Linked DNA regions of Homo sapiens: regions 1, 2, 3, 4 and 6 are each linked to region 5. The links come from fine-mapping of genetic effects on gene expression. A gene starts in region 5. Each other region holds a variant in brackets. All regions are shown on one strand. Distances are from middle to middle. Region 1 has its middle 4.5 kb from the start of CRK. Region 2 overlaps PITPNA (phosphatidylinositol transfer protein alpha). Region 3 overlaps CRK (CRK proto-oncogene, adaptor protein). Region 4 has its middle 6.5 kb from the start of CRK-AS1. Region 5 holds the start of MYO1C (myosin IC). Region 6 overlaps PITPNA (phosphatidylinositol transfer protein alpha).

What was found. PIP is the estimated chance that this variant, and not a neighbour inherited with it, causes the effect.
Region 1: its variant is fine-mapped to the expression of MYO1C in whole blood (TOPMed, PIP above 0.99).
Region 2: its variant is fine-mapped to the expression of MYO1C in monocytes (Quach 2016, PIP 0.95).
Region 3: its variant is fine-mapped to the expression of MYO1C in whole blood (TOPMed, PIP above 0.99).
Region 4: its variant is fine-mapped to the expression of MYO1C in whole blood (INTERVAL, PIP above 0.99).
Region 6: its variant is fine-mapped to the expression of MYO1C in whole blood (TOPMed, PIP above 0.99).

The regions. Positions count from the first base shown.
Region 1 is chr17:1,458,693-1,462,692 of GRCh38, forward strand. No RefSeq gene overlaps it. Among named protein-coding and RNA genes, the nearest start is that of CRK, 4.5 kb to the left of the region's middle. The variant G/C (reference allele first, on the strand shown) is at 1,602.
Region 2 is chr17:1,526,995-1,531,096 of GRCh38, forward strand. The region is part of intron 10 of PITPNA (phosphatidylinositol transfer protein alpha); the gene reads right to left. Among named protein-coding and RNA genes, the nearest start is that of PITPNA-AS1, 12 kb to the left of the region's middle. The variant T/TA (reference allele first, on the strand shown) is at 1,744.
Region 3 is chr17:1,433,989-1,438,090 of GRCh38, forward strand. CRK (CRK proto-oncogene, adaptor protein) reads right to left here. Exons shown (of 3, transcript NM_016823.4): 2 at 2,632-3,167. Among named protein-coding and RNA genes, the nearest start is that of CRK-AS1, 11 kb to the left of the region's middle. The variant T/TA (reference allele first, on the strand shown) is at 1,717.
Region 4 is chr17:1,416,056-1,420,157 of GRCh38, forward strand. No RefSeq gene overlaps it. Among named protein-coding and RNA genes, the nearest start is that of CRK-AS1, 6.5 kb to the right of the region's middle. The variant T/TCTTA (reference allele first, on the strand shown) is at 2,233.
Region 5 is chr17:1,490,765-1,494,866 of GRCh38, forward strand. MYO1C (myosin IC) reads right to left here and starts at 1,922. Exons shown (of 32, transcript NM_001080779.2): 1 at 1,649-1,922. The coding sequence starts at 1,723. It overlaps INPP5K (inositol polyphosphate-5-phosphatase K), which reads right to left. Exons shown (of 12, transcript NM_016532.4): 12 at 3,813-4,102. LOC105371483 (a long non-coding RNA gene) reads left to right here and starts at 2,023. Exons shown (of 2, transcript XR_934145.4): 1 at 2,023-2,861; 2 at 3,186-3,930. RefSeq lists an enhancer at 254-973 and silencers at 258-697, 778-1,177.
Region 6 is chr17:1,540,343-1,544,444 of GRCh38, forward strand. PITPNA (phosphatidylinositol transfer protein alpha) reads right to left here. Exons shown (of 12, transcript NM_006224.4): 5 at 2,678-2,685; 6 at 1,224-1,298. Among named protein-coding and RNA genes, the nearest start is that of PITPNA, 20 kb to the right of the region's middle. RefSeq lists an enhancer at 1,842-2,602. The variant G/A (reference allele first, on the strand shown) is at 1,934.

The sequences.
Region 1 (4,000 bases), 32 kb before region 5:
GGTGAGATCGCGCCATTGCACTCCAGCCTGGGCGACAGAGCGAGACTCCATCTCAAAAAACATTGTTTTTCTTTATAGCCGAGCGTGGTGGCACATCCAGCTATAGTCCCAGCTACTCAGGAACCTGAGGCGGGTGGATCACTTGAGCCCAGGAGTTCGAGGCTGTATTGAGCTATGATCATGCCACAGCACTTCAGCCCAGGTGACAGAGTGAGACCACCTCTCTAAAATAATAATCATCATTTTTTTAAGAGATGAGGTCAGCTGGTCGCTGTGGCTCACGCCAGTAATCCCAGCATTTTGGGAGGCTGAGGCAGGTGGATCACGAGGTCAGGAGATCGACACCATCCTGGCTAACACGGTGAAACGCGGTCTCTACTAAAAATACAAAAAAAATTAGCTGGGCGTGGTGGCGGGCGCCTGTAGTCCCAGCTACTCAGGAGGCTGAGGCAGGAGAATGGGTGAACCCAGGAGGCGGAGCTTGCAGTGAGCTGAGATCGAGCCACTGCACTCCAGCCTGGGCGATAGAGTGAGACTCCGTCTCAGAAAAAAAAAAAAAGAGATGAGGTCTTCTTATGGTGCCCAGGTTGGACTCTAATTCCTGGGCTCCAGGGGTCCTCCTTCCTCAGCCTCCTCAGTAGCTGGGATTATAGAGGTACCACTGTGCTGGTCCACAGTCTCGTTTAACTGCTCCTATGTGAATGCTGGGTTTCTTTTTCCTGGAATGTTCTTCTACCCACTTTGGAGTCTCAAATTCAAATGTCTTCCCTTTCTTTTTTTCTTTTTCTTTTTTTTTTTTTTTTTTTTTTTGTTTTTGAGTCGGAGTCTCGCTCTGTCGCCCAGGCTGGAGTGCAGTGGCGCGATCCTGGCTCACTGCAAGCTCCGCCTCCCGGGTTCACGCCATTCTCCTGCCTCAGCCTCCCGAGTAGCTGGGACTACAGGCGCCCGCCACCGCGCCTGGATAATTTTTTTTTTTTTTTTTTTAGTAGAGACAGGGTTTCACCGTGTTAGCCAGGATGGTCTTGATCTCCTGACTTTGTGATCTGCCTGCCTTGGCCTCCCAAAGTGCTGGGATGACAGGCGTGAGCCACCGCACCCGGCCCAAATGTCTTCCCTTTCTTAACCATCCCATCACTCCCTCTCTTCATCAACAGCAGTATGTCCAAATTATTCCCATGACAGCTCTTACCCATTTTACTGTAATTTTTCATTTGCAGTTCTGTGTATGTCCTCAAAGGCCAAGCAGCTAGTCTATGAGGTGCTCCAGAAGCATTCAGGACCGCTAACATTGATTCAGAGATGACCATCTGCCAGGCACAGTGCTGACTGCCTTTGTATGGATCATCTCATTTAATCCTCTCAACAACCTTATTTGACAAGTATCCCCATCTTACAAAAGAGAAAACTGAAGCTCAGAGAGTTTAAGTAATGTGTCCAGAGAGACATGGTCGCAGAGTGAGGAGCTAGGGTTCAAATCCTGGAAGGAGAGACAGCTATGGTCACTCTGCTCTACCCTCAATTTTCTGAGATAGGAATTGGGAGGAAGGGTTGGCAGAAATCTACATTTTTAAAAAAGCAGTAAGCTGTGGATTATGGTCTAA[G/C]GAATAACACAGTCCTGCTGGACTCACCTTACACACCCTTGGGCCTGCTCTGGGGAAGTGGGGGGTGGGGGACTGGGAGGCACAAGGGCACCTTTCCTGCTGCAGGTGACTCATCGTGACCCTGGCTTAGTGACAGCCTGGCACCGTGAGCCAGCAGAAGCAGCCGTCCCAGTGTGAATTCTGGCTGGTCTGTGAGCTCTGGACCTTACCCAGAGACTGCCTGTTCCAAAGCAGTCCCTCTGAGATCCCTCCCTAGGGCATACGGAAATTACAAGAAAAATAATTTTTTTTTTTTGAGACGGAGTTTCATTCCTGTTGCCCAGGCTGCCGTGCAATGGCACGATCTCAGCTCACCGCAACCTCCATCTCCCGGGTTCAAGTGATTCTCCTGCCCCAGCCTCCCGAGTAGCTGGAATTACAGGCATGTATCACCATGCCTGGATAATTTTTTGTATTTTTAGTAGAGACAGGGTTTCTCCATGTTGGTCAGGCTGATCTCAAACTCCCGACCTCAGGTGATCCGCCTCCCTCGGCCTCTCAAGGTGCTGGGATTACAGGTGTGAGCCACCGCACCCGGCCAAAAAAGAATTTTTTAAAGAAGAATAGACCATCCTGGCTAACATGGTGAAACCCCGTCTCTACTAAAAACACAAAAAATTAGCCAGGCGTGGTGGCGGGCGCGTGCAATCCCAGCTACTTAAGAGGCTGAGGCAGGAGAATTGCTGGAACCCGGGAGGCAGAGGTTGCAGTGAGCCGAGATCGAGCCACTGCACTCCAGCCTGGGTGAGAAGAGTGAAACTCCATCTCTAAATAAAGAAATAAAAGAGAACTCTGGGGCACCATGTGAGGGGAACTCCAAGGAGAGTCTTGGGTAGAGACGGAGCGAGGAGCACAGGCAGGATGCTGCGCCTTCCAGGAAAGGTCAGTAAGATGTCCCCACTGGCAATGTGATTCTGGGACCATCGAGAATGGGTTATTTGCTTTGCTGCGTGCAAACTCCTCTCATCGCTGCAATCTTTTAGGGAAGCTGCTCACACAAAGGCCTTCTTGCAGAATCAAGGAGAAGGTACCCATTTCCTCTGCCACTCTTCTCTGCCCCCAGCCTTCTTCCCTTTCCTCTCAGGAGACTCCACGTTCCTCGAGGGCTTTGCCTTGCTGTTCCCTCTGCCTTGACCACTCTTGCTCCAGATCCTAGCCGTCACTTCCTCTCCTCGTTCAGGTCCCCGCTCTGATGTCATCTCCTCTGTGAGGCCTTGCCTGACTGCAAACTACACACCAACACTCCCTCTCCCCTTGTCTGCTTTGCTTATTTTCCTAGCACTTATCTCTTTCTAATATGTTAGGTATTTTCCTTACGTATTGTCTATTCTTTGCTAGAGTGTAAGCTCCATGAGAGCAGGGATTTGGGTCTTTTTGTTGTTCCTGCTATATCCCAAGAGCCTCACTGAGATCCTGGCACATTGCAAGCATTCCTTCAATTCATACTGGTTGAATGGGCCGGGCGCGGTGGCTCATGCCTGGAATCCCAGCACTTTGGGAGGCCAAGGCAGGCGGATCATGAGGTCAGGAGTTCGAGACCAGCCTGTCCAATATGGTGAAACTCCGTCTCTACTAAAAATACAAAAATTAGCTGGGCGTGGTGGCACGCACCTGTAGTCACAGCTACTCAGGAGGCTGAGGCAGAATTGCTTGAACCTAGGAGGCAGAGGTTGCAGTGAGCCGAGATCGCGCCACTGCACTCCAGCCTGGGCGATGCAGTGAGACTCGTCTCAAAACACACAAACAAACAAACAAAAACCTGTTGCCCAGGCTGGAGTACAGTGGTTCCATCTCAGCTCACTGCCACCTCCACCTCCCGGGTTCAAGCAATTCTCCTGCCTCAGGAGGCCAGGTTGGTCTCAAACTCCTGACCTCAAATGATCCACCCACCTCGGCCTCCCAAAGCGCCGGGTTGAATGAAGGAAGGATGAATGGAGAACTGGCGGAAGCTCTTGTCTAGAGCCAGCATTAGCTTTTCCCATAATTGGCAGATATTTCCTGGAGGTCACTGGACTTCCCTCAGGATGTGAGCTGAGGGCACAAACCAGTCCTGGTTACCTCTCAAAAGGTCAGAGTAGGCTGGGCACGGTGGCTCACGCCTGTCATCCCACCACTTTGGAGTGACCACTTTGAGATCGTGCCATTGCACTCCAGCCTGGGCGACAGACTCTGTCACAAAAAAACAAACAAACAAACAAAAAAAGGCGGACGTCTGGGTAATGTCTGTGATGTCATTCTCGCGTGCATTCTGGTTTGCTAGAGAAAGGAATGTCGACACAGTTATAAAGCATGTAATTGCACTTAATACCTATCTTATCTATCAGCTTCTTGGAGGCATCGTTACTGCTGATAAAGTGGAC
Region 2 (4,102 bases), 36 kb after region 5:
TGATCCACCTGCCTCAGCCTCCCAAAGTGCTGGGATTACAGGTGTGAGCCATCGCACCCAGCCCATTACTTCAGTCTTACAATGATCTAAGAATGCTTATTTCCTGTTTCCTGGGGCCTACACGACATGAGAGATTTATCTGATGTTTGTGGTGTTCCTCAGATTTAGCCAATGTAGGCTATACATACACATATAATATGGCTGAAGAAAATGTGTATGTGAAAATAGGAAAATAGAAACTTCAATCCTGGTTGGTTGGTTTGTTTTGAGATAGAGTTTCGCTCTGTTGCCCAGGCTGGAGTACAATGGTGCGATCTCAGCTCACCGCAATCTCTGCCTCCTGGGTTCAAGTGATTCTCCTGCCTCAGCCTCCCGAGTAGCTGGGATTGCAGGCGTGCACCACCACGCCTGGCTAATTTCTTGTATTTTTAGTAGATGGGGTTTCTCCATGTTACTCAGGCTGTCTCAAACTCCCAAGCTCAGGTGATCCACCCGCCTCGGCCTCCCAAAGTGCTGGGATTACAGGTGTGAGCCACCGTGCCCAGCCCTGGTTTGTTTTTGTTTTTAACAGTGGTTTCCTTTAGGGAATGAGGCCAGGGGCTGAAACAAGAAGACTTTTATTTATGTATTCACCTATTAGTTATTTGGACTTCTATTTTTAAATTTTTTTTCTATCTTTTGAAAATCATTTTGACCATTAAGTATGAAATACACCTTTGATCTAAAAAAATAGTAAAGTGTCAATGTTAATATCCGAGTTATTACATTGTACTATAGTTTTGCAAGATGTTACCATTGGCAAAAACTGGGTAAAGGGTACATAGATCTTTCCACGTTATTTTTTATAACTGCAAGTGAATCTTTCAATCATTTCAAAATAAAAGGTTCGGTGCAGAAATGAAGCTGGCTGGGTGTGTTGGCCCACGCCTACAATCCCAACACTTCGGGAGGCTGAGGTGGAAGGATCACTTGTGGCTGGGAGTTTGAGACCAGCCTGGACAACATAGCAAGATCCTGTCTCTACAAAAATTAAAAAAATTTTAAAAATTAGGTAGGCGTGGTGGCCTGCACCTGTAGTCCCAGCTACTTGGGAGGCTGAGGTGGGTGGATCAGTTGAATCCAAGCGTTTCAGGCTGCCATACTCCAGCCTAGGCAACAGTGTGAGACCCTGTCTTGTTCTGTCGCCAAGGCTGGACAGTGCAGCAGCATGATCTCGGCTCACTACCATTTCTGCCTCCTGGATTCAAGCGATTCTCCTGTCTCAGCCTCCCAAGTAGCTGGGATTACAGGCACACACCACCACACCTGGCTGATTTTTGTATTTTTAGTAGAGACGGGGTTTCTCCATGTTGGCCAGGCTGGTCTGGAACTTCTGACCTCAGGTGATCAGCCCAACTTTAGCCTCCCAAAGTGCTAGGATTACAGGCTTTTGAGCCACCGTGCCTTAAACTGTATTTAAAAAGAAAACAGGGCCAGGTATAGTGGCTCATGATGGTAATCCCAGCACTTTGGGAAACCAAGGTGGGAGGATCACTTGAGACCAGTAATTCAAGACCAGCCTGAGCAACATATTGAGATCTTGTCTCTAAAAAAATTAGTCAGGTGTAGTGGTGGGACCTGAAGTCCTAGCTACTTAGGAGCTTAACGTGGGAGGATCACTTGAGCCCAGAAGTTGAAGGCTGCAGTGAGCTATGATCACAGCACTGCACTCTAGCCTAGGCCACAGAGCGAGACTGTCTCTCT[T/TA]AAAAAAAAAAAAAAGAAAAGAAAACAAAGCTACTTCCATAATTGGGGATGTTGGCTGATGTTCCAGATGGTCTGCAATCACTGCCAGCAGGTTGGAGGGAATTAAGACTCCCTGAGTGGCTGGGCATGGTGGCTCACACCTGTAATCCCAACACTTTGGGAGGCCGAGGCAGGCGGATCACCTGAGGTCAGGAGTTCAAGACCATCCTGGCCAACATGGTGAAACCCCATCTCTACTAAAAATACAAAAATTAGCTGGGCGTGGTGGCGCACACCTGTAATCCCAGCTACTTGGGAGGCTGAGGCAGGAGAATGGTGTGAACCCGGGAGGCAGAGGTTGCAGTGAGCCGAGATTGCGCCACTGCAGTCCAGCCTGGGCGACAGAGCAAGACTCCATCTCAAAAAAAAAAAAAAAAAAAGAGAGAGAGAGACTCCATGAGGGCAGTGTCATCCTTCACATATAGGGATCCTGCAGCCTCTGCAGCTCCTATGAAAGTTTTAGAGGCTGGGCATGGTGGCTCATGCCTGTAATCCCAGCACTTTGGGAGGCCGAGGCAGGTGCATTGCCTGAGCTCAGGAGTTCGAGACTAGTCTGGCCAACATGGTGAAACCCCCTCTCTATTAAAAATAGAAAATTAGTGGCGTGTAGTGGCGGGCGCCTCTAGTCCCAGCTACTTGGGAGGCTGAGGCAGGAGAATTGCTAGAACCTGGGAGGTGGAGGTTGCTGTGAGCTGACATTGTGCCAGTGCACTCCAGCCTGGCGCCACTCCACTCCAGCCTGGGTGACACAGCAAGGTTCTGTCTCAAAAAAAATAAAATAAAATTTTAGATTCTTGGCTGGGCACAGTGGCTCACAACTGTAATCCTAGCACCTTGGGAGGCTGAGGCGGGTGGGTCACCTGAGCTCAGGAGTTCCAGACCAGCCCGGGCAACATGGGGAAACCCTGTCTCTACTAAAAATACAAAAATTAGCCAGGCGTGGTGGCGGGCACCTGTAGTCCCAGCTACTCAGGAGGCTGTGACATGAGAATTGCTTGAATTGGGGAGTTGGAGGTTGCAATGAGCCAAGATTGCACCACTGTACTCCAGCCTGGGTGACAGAGCGAGACTCTGTTTCAAAAGAAAAAAAAAAAAAGAAAACAAGTTTTCTTAACATTTTTTAAGTGAATTCTCTTTTCTGAATCTCATTATCTAAAGAGTTAATGGCCAAAGGCCAAGAGGTACTTGTTCAGTGAATTATAAAACGTCCTCAACTTCTGTGAGCCACAGTTTATCTATAAAATGAAACTAATACCTGTGTTACAGGTTGCCATGAAAACTGGGTGATGTAATACATGTGAAACTCTTAGCATACGTGATAGGCACACAGGAAGTCCTCAATAAATGTTAGCTTCTATTAATAATACAAATATTTTTATTACTACCATATTTGGGAGACAGTGAGTTCCCCATTACAGGCAGTAATCAAGCAAAGGCTGGTAGGGAAGCTTCAGAGAGTACTCAAGCACTGAACATATAATTGGACCAAATGACCTTTAAGATACCTCCTTCCATTTTTCAGATTATGGGCCTCTTAAGAGAGTAAGAGCTTGGGAAAGGGAGAAAAAAGGCAAGTTGGGGAGAAAGAGAGAGACAGAAACTGCTTTCCTACAGGCACATAGTTCCAGAAATTTTTTCTTTTTAGGGCGAAGAACTAATCTCTCGATGCCTTGCTTCCCAAATCTTCAAGCCTCATTCAAGAATGGTGGGTCCGCCCGGACAGGGACTAGAGTTACAGCAGTGATGACTGTGGCCTTGCAGTGACCCTTCATCACTCACAAACAAAATCTGCCTGCACTAGACGACTATGTACTGGCTTAGAGACTAACAGTCATAATTCCTATTCCAAGTGTGCAGTTCATCACGGTGCATGGAAGACAGGCATCTATCTCTATTCCTCCCCCAAACCCTATGACATGACAGTAAAGGAATTTAAAAAGATAAAAACTATGAAGACAACAGGAACAGAGGACACCACAGCAGGTAAGAGCCAGTTAACAACCTTTTGGGAGATGGAAAAAGGACAGAAGAGTCAGTAGCTAATTTGCAGAGCAGCAAAAGCTGAACCTAAGTGCCTGGAGGATGGAGAGCGGAGAAGGAGCTGCAGGTTCTGCAAAGGCTCAGGAACTGGAAGCACCAGGTCCCGCTGCAGATGGGAGTACCAGGTGTGGCTCAAAACTGGTGACTTTTTGAAAGTCCAAATGGAGAACGGTTAGGAACTGGTGTTCCCTTCTCCTGCTCTGGAAGTCAAGCAACCACCCTCCTTTCCTTCACAGCAAAAGCCAGGAGGTTCACTCTCTGAAGCGCTGAGGGAACCCTG
Region 3 (4,102 bases), 57 kb before region 5:
AGCACCTGGCCAAACATCAGCCTGTTGTTTTTGCAGCTTTATTGGAACACAGCAAGCTCATCTGTTGTTTTATCTATGATTTCCTTCTTGCTACAATGGCAGAGTTGGGACACAGAATTTAAGGCCCTCAAAAACCTTTACAGAAAAGGTTTGCAGACCCCTGATCTAAGTAACAGGTAGTGTATCTAGGGCCCATCGACAGTCTTTCAAATTGATGGAAACAAATGAGGACAATTCAGCCTTAACAATTCACCTGCATCAGAGATGGACTGAAACTGGCATGGGTAGTATTGGTGGAAAGCTGCCAGTGTTTGAGATTTAACAGTCCACATGAACAGAAAAAACATCCCACAGAATCCTGGGAGATAGGCCTTACCCTGGTTCTGGTGTGAGTCACAAAGATCTCTAGCTCAACTGATAATGCCTGAAGCTAAGCTCCCCATACCCTTGATGAGCGGTGACCACACATAGTACATATGTTTTAGCTCAACATAAAGACATTTCTAGAAATTGGCCAGGCACGACAGCTCACACCTGTAATCCCAGCACTTTGGGAGGCTGAGGCGGGTGGATCACCTGAGGTCAGGAGTTTGAGACCAGCCTGGCCAACAAGGTGAAACCCTGTCTCTACTAAAAATACAAAAATTAGCCAGGCACAATGGGGTATGCCTGTAATCCCAACTACTCAGGAGACTGAGGCAGGGGAATCACTTGAACCTGGGAGGCGGAGGTTGCAGTGAGCCGAGATCGTGCCATTGCACCCCAGCCTGGGCGATGGAGTGAGATTTCGTCTCAAAAAGAACCAAAAAAAAAAAAAAAAATCCAAAAAAACCCAATACCCAAATCAAAAAGGAAAACTTACTAAAATCATAAAACTAGTTTTCTACTCAAATCTTTATTTAATGAGATTTGTGTTTCACAGCAGGTAGAGAAGCTCAACCATTTTTTTGAGCAGTAAAGCCTCTAATTAAGGCAGGCATGATTAAATCTCTGAGAAAGGAAATGCAAATAGAAGCAAAATTCACATGATAACTGGTTTCTCCTGGGTCAGCTGGCTTGTTCCATGGCTTTTTTTCTTTTTCTTTTTTTGAGACAGAGTCTCACCCTGTCGCCCAGGCTGGAGTGCAGTGTCATGATCTCAGCTCACTTCAGCCATGACCTTTCAGGCTCAGGTGATCCTCCCTCCTCAGCCTCCCAAGTAGCTGGGACCACAGGCACGTGCCACCATGCCCAGCTAATTTTTTGTAGAGATGGTGTTTTGCCATGTTGCCTAGGCCGGTCTCCAACTCCTGAGCTCAAGTGATCTGCCCACCTCGGCCTCCCAAGGTGCTGGGATTACAGGTATGAGCCACACGCCCAGCCTTTGTTCCATGTTTTCATACTTACTTCAACCCAGTGCTAATAAAGTCTGTAATAAATGTCAAGAGTTACATCTAGTGACTCAGTAAGGCCAGATAAAAATAAAAAAAAGCAGAGAGGAAAAAAAAAAAAGAAAATAAAAAGGAGTAAGATCCATCATACACACAGCACCATGCCAGATGTTACCGTCATCTGAACTCACAGGAAGACCTGAGGGTAGAAATCTATTTTCCTCCAAACAGGGAATGGGAACAAGAGGCAGTGATAACTCTGACAACATACATTCCATTTCTCATTCAAGCCAGGACTGCAGGTGCATGCCACCACGCCTGGTGATTTTTTTTTTTCACTTTTTGT[T/TA]AAAAAAAGCTGAGGTCTATGTTTCCCAGACTGGTCTTGAACACCTGGTCTCAAGTGGTCTTCCTGCCTTAGCCTCCCAGAGCACTAGGATTACAAGTGTGAGCCACTGTGCCCAGTCTGTACTAGCTTTTACACTGAACCATCAATTCTTCTGAAAAGAAAGGAAGGGAGAGAGGGAGGAAGGAAGAAGAAAGGAAGGAGGTAGGAGAGCAAGGTGTGAGCGTGGAAGAGAGGAATAAAGGAATTAACACCATGTAATGGCTGGCCAGAAGGAAGTGGGCTGCCAAAGATATTTCATCAGTAAAGGCAAAAATTAATTCCTGAGGAAGAACTGGCTTTTTGAATGATTTAGAAAGACCCGTGCACCTGCCACTCCTCGGAATGAGGACTTCTGGGTGTGCATCTCTTCAAACCTCTACTAGGCCTATTTCCTCCCGGATTCTACTCAATGAACATTAGTGGTAAGGAACTTCAAGTCCCCTGAAGCAAAAACAAGTTTTTGCGGGAAAATTCCATTTAAGTGCTTTGATAGAGACCACTTATTACACTCAAATCCATCTGAACCCACCTTCTTTTAGACAACGACAAACAGAAAGCAAGAAACAGATGAGGATGTAGATGAGGAAAAACATTTGAGGTTAATTCCTGTGAATTCAGGTGGTGTTATTAAAGTAGTCCAAGTGTGTTTAGTAGATCAATTAAGAACATTCAGTTATACAGTTTTAAGCTTACTCATTCCCAAACAGGTTTTCTATGAAGAAGAGAAAACCCAACATTCAATGCCAACATCAGTGCTTAGCGGCTTGCCATCTACAACATCCCAATGCTGTAGTCAGCATTGCTACAAAGCTCTAAGAGGACCGAGAGGAGACCCTGCAGCAGATCTCTTCTTTCTACATTGTGCACGTTATGTACCTCCAAAGCCAAGGCTGTCTTGTCGTAGGCATTGGGGACTCGCTTCTGGATAACCCTGGCATATATGGGCCCATTCTGGAGGTTAGGGAGCGGAGTGTTGACGCTGGGTTGGGCATAGGGCCCAGGCTCCGGCCCACCCAGTGGCTGTGGGTGGGAACCCTCCTGGTTACCTCCAATCAGAGCCGATACTGAGGCGGAGGCAGGTCTATACTTCTCGACGTAAGGGACTGGAATCATCCCTCTCTTGCCTTCGCTGTCCTCCGCATTCCACCACTGCTCTTCAGGCTTGTCCCGGATTCTCAAGATGTCTCCTTTCTTAAAGGGAAGATCTTCCTCATCATTCCCATTAAAGTCAAAGAGGGCTCGCACATACTCCGCCTCCTCCTGCCTGAGAATCACTCCACTACCCTGCCTGGATCTGGAAACTGGTTCTATCAACGTTGTAGTGTCCAAATAGTGTATTTTGTAGAATTCCAGTAAAGCAGGCAATGAATCAAACTCTTGATCTCCTATTCGGAGTCTGGAGGGGCTCACCCCTGGAAAAAACAGAGCAGGCTGTTATTTAATGATGTACTACACTGGAAATGAAATGCAGATTTTATTTTTATTTTTTTTAGAGTTGGGATCTCACTATGTTACCCAGGCTGGTCTTGACCTCCGGGGCTCAAGTGATCCTCTCACCACAAACTCCTGAGTAGCTGGGACTACAGGAGCCCACCACTGTGCCTGGCCGAAATGGAGCTTTCATGCATGCCTCATACACATTTAGTCAAGATTTAATCAGCAAAAAAAACTCTAGAAAAAATAACCCCTTCTCTTCACAGCACACCAACATCACATTTGGAAGCTGAAACATCCCCTGGGAAGAAAGATGCCCATCACTACAGCCCCAGGGAAGGATGAGGAGGCCAGGAGACTAGGCTGATCAGGACGTGCTCTCATACTTGATCAACGACGGGGGCTTTCACTGCATTCTCCAAATATGTTCTGTCGCTACCCCATTTACAGAGCAGTGTAAGCCTCAAGGTTCTGTTGCATGTTTTTTTTTTTTTGAGACCAAATCTCACTGTGTCGCCCAGGCTGGAGTGTAGTGGCGTGATCTCTGCTCACTGCAACCTCTGCCTCCCGGGTTCAAGCGATTCTCCCGTCTCAGCCTCCTGAGTAGCTAGGATTACAGGCTCCCACCACCATGACAAGCTAATTTTTTTTTTTTTTTTTGTATTTTTAGTAGAGACGGGGTTTCACCATGTTGGCCAGGCTGGTCTCAAACTCCTGATCTCAGGTGATCCACCCACCTCAGCCTCCCAAAGTGCTGGGATTACAGGTGTGAGCTACTGCGCCTGGCCTGCATCTACTTTTCAACCTCAGGAAATGTAGCAAGCTCTTGTTTTTCATGGGTCCCTGCTGCTGTTCAGAAGGTGGAGAGAGCTTGTGTCTGCACTGAGCTCACACATTTTTTCTCTTCACATCT
Region 4 (4,102 bases), 75 kb before region 5:
TGGCTCACGGCTGTAATCCTAGCACTTTGGAAGGCTGAGGCAGGTGGATTACCTGAGGTCAGGAGTTCAAGACTAGCCTGGCCAATACGGTAAAACCCCGTCTCTACTAAAAATACAAAAATTAGCTGGGTGTGATGGTGGGCGCCTGTAATCCCAGCTACTTGGGAGGCTGAGGCAGGAGAATTTCTTGAACCCAGGAGGCGGAGGTTGCAGTGAGGCAAGATTGTACCACTGTAGTCCAGCCTGGGTGACAGAATAAGACTCTGTCTCGGAAAAAAAAAAAAAGAAAAGAAAAAAAGAAAATACGATCAAGAACCTCACTTTGGCCAGGCGTGGTGGCTCAGGCCTGTAATCCCAGCATGTTTGGAGGCCAAGGCAGGTGGATCCTTTGAGACCAGCCTGGGCTACATAGCAACACCCCATCTCTTAAAAAATAGTAATTTTAAAAAACCTCAAAAATTAGCTGGGGATGGTGGTGTGCGCCTGTAGTCCCAGCTGCCTGGAAGGCTGAGAGGTGGGAGGATCGCTTGAGTCCAGGAGGCGGAGGTTTCTGTGAGCTGAGATCACGCCACTGCACTCCAGCCTGGGCAACAGAGTGAGACCCCATCTCAAACAAACAAAAAACAAAAAAAATCACATTCAGCCGGGAATGGCAGCTCACACAGATAATCCCAGCATTTTGGGAGGTTGAGGCAGGAGGATTACTTGAGCCTAGGAGTTCAAGAGCAGCCATAGCAAAACCCTCATCTCTACCAAAAATTAACAAACTAGCCAGGTGTGGTGGTGCGCAACTGTCGTCCCAGCTATTTTGGAGGCATAGGTGGGCAGATTGCTTGAGTCCCGGAGGTCCAGGCTGCGCTGAGTCCGGGTTGCACTGTTGCATCCCAGCCTGGGCAACAGTGAGTTTTGTCTCTCAAAAGAAACAAACAAAGGGCCGGGCATGGTGGCTCACGCCTGTAATCCCAGCACTTTGGGAGGCTGAGGTGGGCAGATCACAAGGTCAGGAGTTCAAGACCAGCCTGGCCAACATGGTGAAACCCCATCTCTACTAAAAATACAAAAAATTAGCCGGACGTGGTGGCACGCACTGGAATCCCAGCTACTTGGGACGCTGAGGCAGAAGAATCGCTTTAACCTGGGAGGTGGAGGTTGTGGTGAGCTGAGATGGCACCATTGCACTCCAGGCTGGACAACAGAGCAAAACTCCACCTCAAAAAAAAAAAAAAAAAAACAACACTCATCACATTCATTCCTTTTTTCTAAGTATCATAGATTTTTTGCGTGTTTGCTTTTTGAAACGGAGTCTGGTTCTGTCGCCCAGGCTGGAGTGTAGTGGTGTGGTCTTGGTTCACTGCAACCTCTGCCTCCCAGGTTCAAGAGAGTCTCCCACCTCAGCCTCCTGAGTAGCTGAGATTACAGGCATCCCCCACCATGCCCGGCTAATTTTATATTATTTATTTATTTTTGAGACAGTATCGCTCTGTTGCCCAGGCCGGAGTGCAATGGTGCGATCTCAGCTTACTGCAACCTCTGCCTCCCCGGTTGAAGTGATTCTCCTGCCTCAGCTTCCCGAGTAGCTGGGATTAAAGGCACCTGCCACCACACCTGGCTTTTTTTTTTTTTTTTTTGAGATGGAGTCTCACTCTGACGTCCAGGCTGGAGTGCAGTGGCGTGGTCTCGGCTCACTGCAAACTCCGTCTCCCAGGTTCAAGCCACTCTGCCTCGGCCTCCGGAGTAGCTGGGACTCAGGCGTCCGCCACTACACCTGGCTAGTTTTTTGTATTTTTAGTAGAGATGGGGTTTCACCGTGTTAGCCAGGATGGTCTCGATCTCCTGACCTCATAATCCACCCGCCTCGGGCTCCCACAGTTCTGGGATGAGGCGTGAGCCACCGCGCCCGGCCTGCTCTGTTTTTGAGCTTCACTTCTAGATGGCTAAAGGTTCTTTTTTGCCTCTACCTTATCTCCCATTTCACAGTCTTCAGAACATGGGTGGCAACAGCACGCCACTTTCTCCGCCTCTCCCTGTCAAACTTAGCAGGGTTAATGGTTATTTTCACATTTTCTTCTATACCGGCCCCCTCTCATCTTTTCATACCTGTAAGAGGAACAGAATTTAACCTGGAAGTCCAGGTCATAAAATACGACAGCTGGTATGAATACTGTAGACTATATAAAAGAACACGCCATTCAACAGGGTTTTTTTTGGTTTTGGGTTTTGTTTCAGACAGGG[T/TCTTA]CTTACCCTGTCGCTCAGGCTGGAGTGAAGTGGCACAATCTCACTGCACCGTCAGCCTCTTGGGTTCAAGCAACTCTTCTGCCTCAGCGGCCTAAGTGGCTGGGATTACAGGCGCACACCACCACACCCAGCTAATTTTTTTTTGTATTTTTAGTAGAGACAGTGTTTCACCACGTGGGCCAGGCTGGTTTCAAACTCCTGATCTCAAATGATTCCACCACCTAGGCCTCCCAAGTGCGAGGATTACAGGCATAAGCCACTGTACCTGGCCTGCTTTCAGGCCTTTATATGATTCTTATGGTCCCCTCAAATCAGTATTTTATGACTCATACTCATGGAGACCTTTAAAAATATCACCAGGCCAGAGGCCGGGCGCAGTGGCTCACGCCTGTAATTCCAGCACACTGGGAGGCCGAGGCGGGTGGATCACCTGAGGTCAAGAGTTCAAGACCAGCCTAGCCAACATGGTGAAACACCATCTCTACTAAAAATACAAAAATTAGCAGGGCCTGGTGGCGTGCACCTGTAATCCCAGCTATTCGGGAGGCTGAGGCAGGAGAATCGCTTATACCCGGGAGGCAAGGTTGGAGTAAGCTGAGATCACGCCACTGCCCTCCAGCCTGGGGCACAAGAGGAAAATTTTGTCTTGAAAAAAAAAAAAATCACGAGGCCAGGCGCGGTGGCTCACGCCTGTAATCCCAGTACTTTGGGGGGCCAAAGTGGATCACCTGCGGTCAGGAGGTTTGAGACCAGCCTGGCCAAAATGGTGAAACCCCATCTCTACTAAAAATACAAAAATTAGCCAGGTATGGTGGCACGTGCCTGTAATCCCAGCTACTCGGGAGGCTGAGGCAGGAGAATCGCTTGAACACAGGAGACAGAGGTTACAACGAGCTGAGATAGCGCCACTATACTCCAGCCTGCACAACAAGAGTGAAACTCCGTCCCCGCCCCCCACCCTGCGCCCCGCCAAAAAAAAAAAAAAAAAAAAAGGCCGGATACGGTGGCTCATCCCTGTAATCCTAGCACTTTGGGAGGCTGAGGCAGGCGGATCACCTGAGGTTGGGAGTTCCAGACCAGCCTGACCAACATGGAGAAATCCCGTTTCTACTAAAAATTCAAAATTAGCCGGGCATGGTGGCGCATGCCTGTAATCCCAGCTACTCGGGAGGCTGAGGCAGGAGAATTGCTTGAACCCAGGAGGTGGAGGTTGCAGTGAGCCAAGAACGCAGCACTACACTCCAGCCTGGGCAACAAGAGCGAAACTCCATCTCAACAAAAATAAATAAATAAATAATTAAAAAAAAATCTGTGTCTATATATATCACCATTGATTAATCCCATCTTTTTTTTTTTTTTCCCTGAGATGGAGTCTTGCTCTGTCACCCAGGCTGGAGTGCAGTGGCGTGATCTCGGCTAACTACAATCTCCACTTCACAGGTTCAAGTAATTCATCTGCCTCAGCCTCCCGAGTAGCTGGGACTATAGGTGCACGCCACAACGCCTGGCTAATTTTTGTATTTTATTGATTGATTAATTGAGACAGAGTCTCGCTCTGTTGCCCAGGCTGGAGTACGGTGGTGCCATCTTGGATCACTGCAAGCTCTGCCTCCCGGGTTCAAGCGATTCTCCTGCCTCAGCCTCCCGTGCAGCTGGGACTACAGGCGCGTGCCACCACGCCCGGCTAATTTTTCGTATTTTTAGTGGAGACCGGGTTTCACCATGTTAGCCAGGATGGTCTCGATCTCCTGACTTTGTGATCCACCCACCTCAGCCTCCTAAAGTGCTGGGATTACAGGCGTGAGCCATCATGCCCAGCCAGATTTTAGTATTTTTAGTAGAGACGGAGTTTCACTATGTTGGCCAGGCT
Region 5 (4,102 bases):
TTACCCCACTGCTCCTGCATTCCGATGTGCCAGATGGCCCGCTCCAGTCCCCTCTCCCCCCACCCCTCCCCCCAGGAGGGGGCCTTCGCACCGTCGCCAGCCAGTCCAAGCTTCAGTGCCTGCACCTGCGGCTTCCCCAGCCCGGGGCACTCTCCCTGCCCACCTCACTGAGACTCGGCTCAGGTGTCACCTCCTCCAGAACCCCTTCCTGATTCTCCCAAACACGCAGCGCCTCCTTATCGCACCCCGCAGGAATCAGCTGTTTCCTTGTCAGTCCCTCCCAGGAGACGGCTCCCACTCCCTACACGCAGCGAGGCACACGGTGGGGCTCAGTCACCCCTTCCCGGACCCCTGGATGAATGAATGAATCTCAGAGCCAGGCGTGTGCGCGGGAGGCCGGAGCGTGAGGACTGAGGGCCGCGTGGCCATCCTCCTTCTCCGGCCACCCCGGAGCCCCCCGCCCGTCACACTCGGGGCGCGCTGGGCCCCAGGGGCGGAGAACGGGAAGGGGCGGGTTTAGGCGGCTTCTCCGGAACCCAGAGGCGGAGCAGGGCTGCGGGCGGGGCCCGAAGGGCGCGCAGGGTCCTGGGTCCTGCAGCCCAGGCCGCTCTTCCCCGCCTCCCGCTCCCCGCAGGTAAATCTAAGTCTCCACCAGGCTGCGCCGGCGCCTCCGGGTCGTGGGACCCCCCCCCCCCGCACGGGTCCACGCGGCCGTTCTTCGGCCCCAGCGATCCCCGGCCGTGACCCCTGCCTCGTGCACGGCGGCTCCCGGCCCGGCCGCCCGCTCCCCACACCCGCCCCCCGCGGCCGCCGTCCCCGCGCCCCGAGTACCCACCGGCGTGGCTCTTCCGGCGCGGGCGGGGCCGGGCTGGGCGGCGTGGCGGGCTTGGGGATCCGCGGCCCGGGCGCACTCTCCCCGCCCAGGGCCCGCCGGGGGCCGGGCCGCAGCCTGTCGTCATCCCGGGCAGGGCCGCGCACCCTCCGGCCCCGCCCCGCCCCGCCTCAGCCCCGGCCGCGTCCGCGAAGCCTCGGTGCGTGCGGCCCCCGCCTCGGCCCGTTCCCGGGGCCACAGCGAACACGCGCGCGCCCCTCCGGCCGAAGACCCGGCTCCCCGCCGCGCTGCTGGGGGCGTGGGGGCGCCCGACTTTCTCCCTCCTCCGGGCCCTTTGCATCTCCAGCCCCTTCCTGCGGGCCGGGCCAGGGCCGCGCTCCCCCGTTTCTACCCACCCGTGACCCTTCACCCACCTCCCACACCGTCCTTCTGTTCTGAGTCTTGGGCGGTCCCAGCCCTGCGGACTGGAGAGGAGCGGGGCGTTGACTGAGCCTGGAGCTTCCATGCCCTGGTCCTTCGACCTCACAGCAGCCGGCACTTGCCTTTTGTGCCCAGTATTCACGGTTCTGCCCACTGAGGTTCGGGAAGCCGGGGAAGAGTCAAGCCCAGACCTCCACTTCCAAAAATCCTGCTGCTAGTGGCCCTTGCATCCTTACTCTTCCACTCACCCCGTCTTGTTCAGTCTGTTCTGGCCCCGCCAAGGATCGGAACCCCTCCCCGCTGCTCAGCTCTTGCCCGAGGGCTCGCCTGAGAGGGGCTGCCCGGCCTTGGGGAGACGCTCCCACCCTCCTCCCAGCCCAGAGCATCCCAGCTTACAAGCTTGCAGGGCCTGTGGGGATGAACCACGCGGATGATCTCCCCGGTGGGTACCAGCTCCACTTGCAGCGCCATTCCGCCCTGCGGAGAGCCAGCGGCCTGGGCACCGCGGCCTGTGAGCAAGAGCTGCCTGCCCACTGGCGGGCTCCGACCACTCCGGGACCAGGAACCTACGGTCTAACGCCGGGATGGCCACTTGGTTCTGCTTCAACTGCAGCCCCAGGGGATGTGGCTGGTCCAGCTCCTCAGGACACGGCTGGAGCCGTCCAGGTCTGACTGGGAGGCCTCTTGGCCCGGATGGTTGGAGCAGGAAGAGGAGGGGCTGGGGATGGAGGAAATGCCTGTTGTCCCAGGTAACCAGAGGAGCCGATGCAGCCACCCATGGGGGACCCTGGGCTCCAGGTCAAAGGCTAGGACGCCTTTCCCCTTCCCCCCATCCCCACGGCAGCTCTATGGCTGGGCCCCTCCTCCTGCCCACTCTCTGGTACCACCTAGAGAGCACGGGGCCCACTCCCCAAACCAGACGGCATGCCCTCCCCTAGGCCAAGAGGACCCGTTAGTAGGCACTGGCTTTCCTGCACATCCCCTCAACGGGGCTGCCCCCCACAGCAGGTGAGCCCCCACCATGAGTTTGAGAGACCAGGGCTGCTGGGGCCTGGTCATGCAGGGCCCGGACAGGGGGCTGTCCCGCTGTGAGGAAGCTCTTGGCTTACCCTCCTCTGAGCCTCAGAGCTTGTGAGGTTAGTTCCTGGGTTCCCTGGGTGTGGGCAACCTCTAGCCCTGTTCATCCCTTGCGTTTCAACAGTACCCCCAGGTGACCCCCACCCCTGATGTTCCTGCTTTTCTATTTTTATTGTTGCTAAATCACAGCTGACACTTTCCTGGCCTGAGACTGAGCCCTCCAGTCTCCAGCCATTCCTTATAGGAAGTAAGAACAGGGAAGTGGATAGGGGAAACAGACCTTTCCAGAGGGAGAGGCTGGCATAGGAAGGGCTGAGTCCCGTGGGTGTGTGCTGGCACCGACAGCCCCATAGGCAGGGGCCTTCCCCCCGGCACCCTTCTCTCTCCCCACAGCTTCCCCCGCCCCGGAAAAGCTAGCAAGCCTTCCTTCCTTCCTCCGGGAAGCACATCTATCCAGAGCAGGCTCATCCCCGGCGGCCACACAATGGCCCTTATCAGCCGTGGAGCCAGGCGTAGACCCAGTGCACACCAGGTCTCACTTATTTCCTGTTTCCACCCAGTGGGTCGGGGTGGACCCAGAACGGCCATATCCTGACTGGGGCCCAGAGGACGGAGAGCACCCCCCATTCCCCTTTCCGCCTCTCAATCACTGCTGGGCTCACCCCTCCCACACAGGAGGCTGGGTGTGTGGCGACCTCAGTTCACCACGGGGGAGGTGAGCATGTGGGGGGACCCCTGGGGTCAAGCCCCGGGGCCGCATTAATCAGAACGGGGAGGCGGGTCTAGTGCGATACACTTTCTGCAATTGTTCTCCCACAGTAATCTTGAGAATAGGGACATCATCTGTATTTTACAGACTACTGAGACCGCTCTGCGGGTGGGTTCAGACCCCATTCCTGTTTCTGGTCCTGTGGGAAACCACAGGTGCCTGGAACTTTGAAGAGACTGTACCACTTCTCTGAGCCTTGGCTTTCCCATCTGCCCAATGAAGGGTGCCATGCAGTAACCCTCGTGATGGCTGTGCATGTGAGAAGGAACAGGTGGGCAAGTGAGGGCTTTGGAGGTCCCTAGGTATATGTGTTGGGGGCAGGGATAGGTTACCATGGGGGAAAACTCAGCAAGAAGGGGCTGAGGAGAAGTGGGGCAGAAAGAGAAGATGGTGGCATTCTGGACTGGTTAACGCAGGCAGAAGGCTCAACACCAGGGTATGCAGAGCAGCGGGTCAGGAGGGATGAACAAGAGCTCATTTGACTTAACAGAGTACATTAAGCGGCCACCGGCATAGATGGCATGCTCCACCTGGTTAGGGCCCCAGAGGCTCACCATTCTAGAACCTCATCCTAGCCCCAGTCCTGGCCACTTCTGCAAATCTCAGACACAGAAGTCTAGTTGGGATCTACAGGGTCCCTGTTCCTGGAATCTACAGCTAGTCCCAGGCCCATCACCGTACCCCCACCCCCCAATCATCAGTCACACGCAAGTGTAAAAGCCACGCTAATAATTACCCCTGCACAATGTAACAGTCACAAAACAGCCAGCCATGGCCTGCTGGAAGCCAGGGGACAATTCTTCATACACAGGCTTGCGGGGGAGAGTATGCAACACAGAGCAACTGGAGTAACCCTCAGTCCCAGGACACAGGATGGCAGGACAAGCACTGAGCAGGCTCCCAGAGGTGTCTTCTCCTGGGAAAAGGGCTGCCGAGTGACCATGGCGGAGGCAAGTGCTGGATGTGGGGACAGGCCATGTCCCCAAAGCCCCTAGAGGGTGTTC
Region 6 (4,102 bases), 50 kb after region 5:
GCTTGTCCCTCGTCCCCAGTCTAGTAACAGCCACCTCTAAGAGATCCTACATACAAACATCCATGTGCGTGGATTTTTCTTTTAATATGAAGGGCGGCATGCACACACCTTGTTTCATAACTTCCATCCTTCACTGAACAGTCAACTTGAAGACTGCTCTCTATTGGTTTTTCCATGGCTGCAAGGATGTCACTATTTGGCTGAACCACAATGCATTTAACGTTGTCCTACTAACGGGCCTTTTTTTTCTCTTTTTTTTTTTTTAAGACAGTGTCTCGCTCTGTCACCCAAGTTGGAGTACAGTGGCGTGATCTCGGCTCACTGCAAGCTTCGACTCCCGGGTTCACGCCATTCTCCTGCCTCAGCCTCCTGAGTAGCTGGGACTACAGGTGCCCGCCATGAAGCCTGGCTGTTTTGTATTTTTAGTAGGGACAGGGTTTCACCGTGTTAGCCAGGATGGTCTCGATCTCCTGACCTCGTGATCCGCCTGCCTCGGCCTCCCAAAGTGCTGGGATTACAGGCGTGAGCCACCGCACCCGGTCTAACGGGCTCTTATGTTGTTTTTTTGTTTTTGGAGACAGGGTGTCACTCTGTTGCCCAGGCTGGAGTGTGGTGGTGCAGTCACAGCTCACTGCAGCCTTGACTTCCCAGCCTCAAATGATCCTCCAGCCTCGGCCTCCAGAGTGGCTGGGACCACAGGCACATACCACCATGCCCAGCTAATTCTTTTTTTATTTTTGGTAGAGACAGAGTCTTGTTATGTTGCCCAGGATGGTCTTACATTGTTTTTGATCTTTGGCTACACAAAGAAGACTGCAATGAGTCTCCTTGTATATATGTTATTTCACACATGTGAAAATAACTGTCTAAATTCTTGGGCATGGAAATGCTAAAGGATAGGTGTATTTTATTTTTTGGGAGTTACTGCAAATTGTGCTCTATAGAAAACTGTAATTTTGGTCTTTTAAAGATATAGCTCCCATGTACCAGGAACTGCACCAATCCAAGCAGTACGAGAAGGCCCCATAAAAAGTTCCGGAGATCACATTTTGCAAATCAGAGACATAGCAATCCCATGCTGGTAAGATAGGTCTAGGCAGAGGCCACTGCCTTCCCGGCCAGGCAAAAGAGGACCACAGAGAGGACCCCATGGTAGCCCTGGAGAGGCTACAAGGCAGAGACTCAAGACCTCACCCCTGGGGCTTTTGGGAACTACTACTCACATTCTCCTGCGTGCCAAGATCTGGTTTGTGCCAGGTTTCAATTTTAATCAGAAAGTCTTCTTTCATGTACTCATTCTGGAAGAAGGAAAAAAAATACATGAAAGTCACTAGGTTCACAGTTGAGAGTAACCATCTCCCATTACTGGAGATGGGCATTACTGGATCATGGGCAGCTAGGAGATTCCAGCCTCTGCCTTGTAATAACAGTTAACTTGACTGGGAGCCCACGACACACTAGGCATGTATTATCCCATTCAATCCTCACCCCAGCCTGAGAGCTCTGTAGAATCACCCTCATTTTACAGATGAGGTTCAAAGAGGTTAGGTGACTTAACCAAAGTCACAGAGATCGGGCCAGGCATGGTGGCTCACGCCTGTCATCTCAGCACTTTGGGAGGCCGAGGCGGGCGGATCACTTGAGGTCACAAGATCGAGACCAGTCTGGCCAACAGTGGTGAAACCCGTCTCTACTAAAAATACAAAAATTATCCAGGCATGGTGGCGGGTGCCTGTAATCCCAGCTACTCGGGAGGCTGAGGCAGGAGAATCGCCTGAACCCAGGAGGCAGAAGCTGCAGGGAGCCGAGATTGCACCACTGCACTCCAGTCTAGGAAACAACAGCAAGACTCCGTTTCGAAAAAAAAAAAAAAGTCACAGAGATCACGACAGAGTTGGGTCTCAAAACAGTTTCGTCTGACTTCAGAATCCAT[G/A]CATTTAGCCACTCTGGGTAGTAAGCAGTGTGGAAAGAGCACAGAAGACTTCCTAACCCATCGAAGATACTCACCATGGCCCCTTTCCCTCCAACTAGCCTGTGGCTAAGGCCTTAAGTTTTCTTCTCAGTAACTGAACCCTTCAAGCTAATTATTGCCTCCCTCCCTCCCTTCCTGCTTCTTAAAAATTGGAACTTCTCAAAGGAGGAACACATTCACCCATTAACGCCTCAGCAGGAACCAGTTTCCCAGAGACAGCCAGTGTTTACCGGCAGGGACAAGGCACTCAGATGAGTGTGCTGAATGGTGGGCGGGTGGGCAATGACAGAGGGGACGGCTGTGGAAGAGAAACCCCGCTGACTTCACGACTTTGCCAAGGATCAGTGCTCAGTGGACTCAACAGATGCACAGATGGGGAAGGGATGTCGGTCAGGTCAGTTGAATGGAGCTCTCTCTACAACCTTGAAAAGGTGTGACCTGGGGAGGCAGGGCCTCGAGCCACTGTGTCCATGTCAGACCCACAGCCAGGATGCACTTAATGGAGCCGCAGGCCAATGCAGCTTAAAGCAGGAGGTCATCATGCCAGTTAACAGGTTCCTTGTTAGTCCACTGACAGGACTGAGCCTCAGCAACTCCAAACATCAGCCAAGGGAAAGAACACCCAAGACCACCAGTGCAGTTACATTTTTCTCTCTCCTGTTCTTATACATCATCTACAGTTCCAACCCCCTTGACAATACTTACTGTAATAACTGCTCCGAGGCAAGGACATGGAAAGAAGAGAGAAAAAGATTAATGAAGATGAAGAAATATCTGCCCCCCACCCCCCACAAGGAGGACGAATGGCAGAGTGTACTTTACTCCCTGTGGCTTATTCCACGGTCACCTCCAAGCCCCAGTGAGTCAGAAATACCTTAACGCACCAACCCTCAAATTTCACTCAGACAAACATCCCAAAAAACCAAACAGGGAATTTAATTAAAGCGACGCCGCTATGGGCTTCTTGGGATTCTTTTCAGCAGGGCACTGACAGGGACCAGCTCTGATCAGCAGAGGTGCCGCAACTCATCACTCTGGCATCAGAGCGTTCTCCGGCGCCTCCCACCCCTACCCCAGCCTCTACCTCCCGGGGCACAGAGCAGGGTGCTTTGGCCATGCACTGTATCTGCCTCCTGCACCCTTCCTCTCGCTGTAATCAAACCTCCCAGGCTCTGCACTCCTGCTCATTGTAATGGGAACCCCTTAGAAAGCATGGTTCAATTATTTATCAGAGAAAATGACTGCACCTCTCATGTCACTGGGGAACAGACTAGCTCTGCTCCTGAGACCGCCCGGTTCATTCTGTACCCTCTGAATTTAGGACCTATGTCCACTTCTGCTGGCTGCCCCACTGCCATGTTTGTAGAGTGTGTGGGGTAACAAACTCCAGAACTGAAGTTAAGGTGACCCCGGAGCACAAAATGAGGCAAAGTTGAAATATAAAGAGTAAGAGCTATCACGCACAGAAATAACCCAAAAGACTGTCAGTAATTCCCCCATACCCAACGAAAGACACTTAGAAGGAAGCACCAGATTAAGATTACAACTGAAAGGCCTACACTGAAGTAACTGCCCTGTTAGCAGCTTCAAGAAAACCACGTTAGAATAAGAAAAGGAAATCATGGGTATAGTATCTCGTCAGCAGAAATTCTCCTGTGCCGTGGTGGGCCCCGGAGGCCCAGCCCCCGCATGTGGCATCTCTGGCAGCGCCATCCCTGGAGTGGGGGCAGCAGTGCCAGGATGGCCTGGTCTGATGACACCAGCCACTAAACTTCTCCAACTAAGCACCTTTTTTGAATCTATCTCCTCTAAGAAAGTCTCTCCTAGTTCGGCCTCTCCGAGACGTGCTCATCAATGGACCCAAGAATCTGATCACTCAGCCAAGCGGACATTCTTTGCCACACATTGGCATTCTGATTATAATTTGGTTTCTCATGTAGAAGAATCCACAAGAAAAGAATGCCCTGATCATCGAATGGGAATGTCCCGTTTCGGTAGCAATTCTGCGTTTTAGTGTAACTTCATAGACTGGCGCTGGGGTTTTTACACATTCATCTTTGTGAGACCCCGAGAGACAGATCCACTCAGTTCTGACAACCTGGTTTTCCGAAATCATGAGGGTGACAGCCC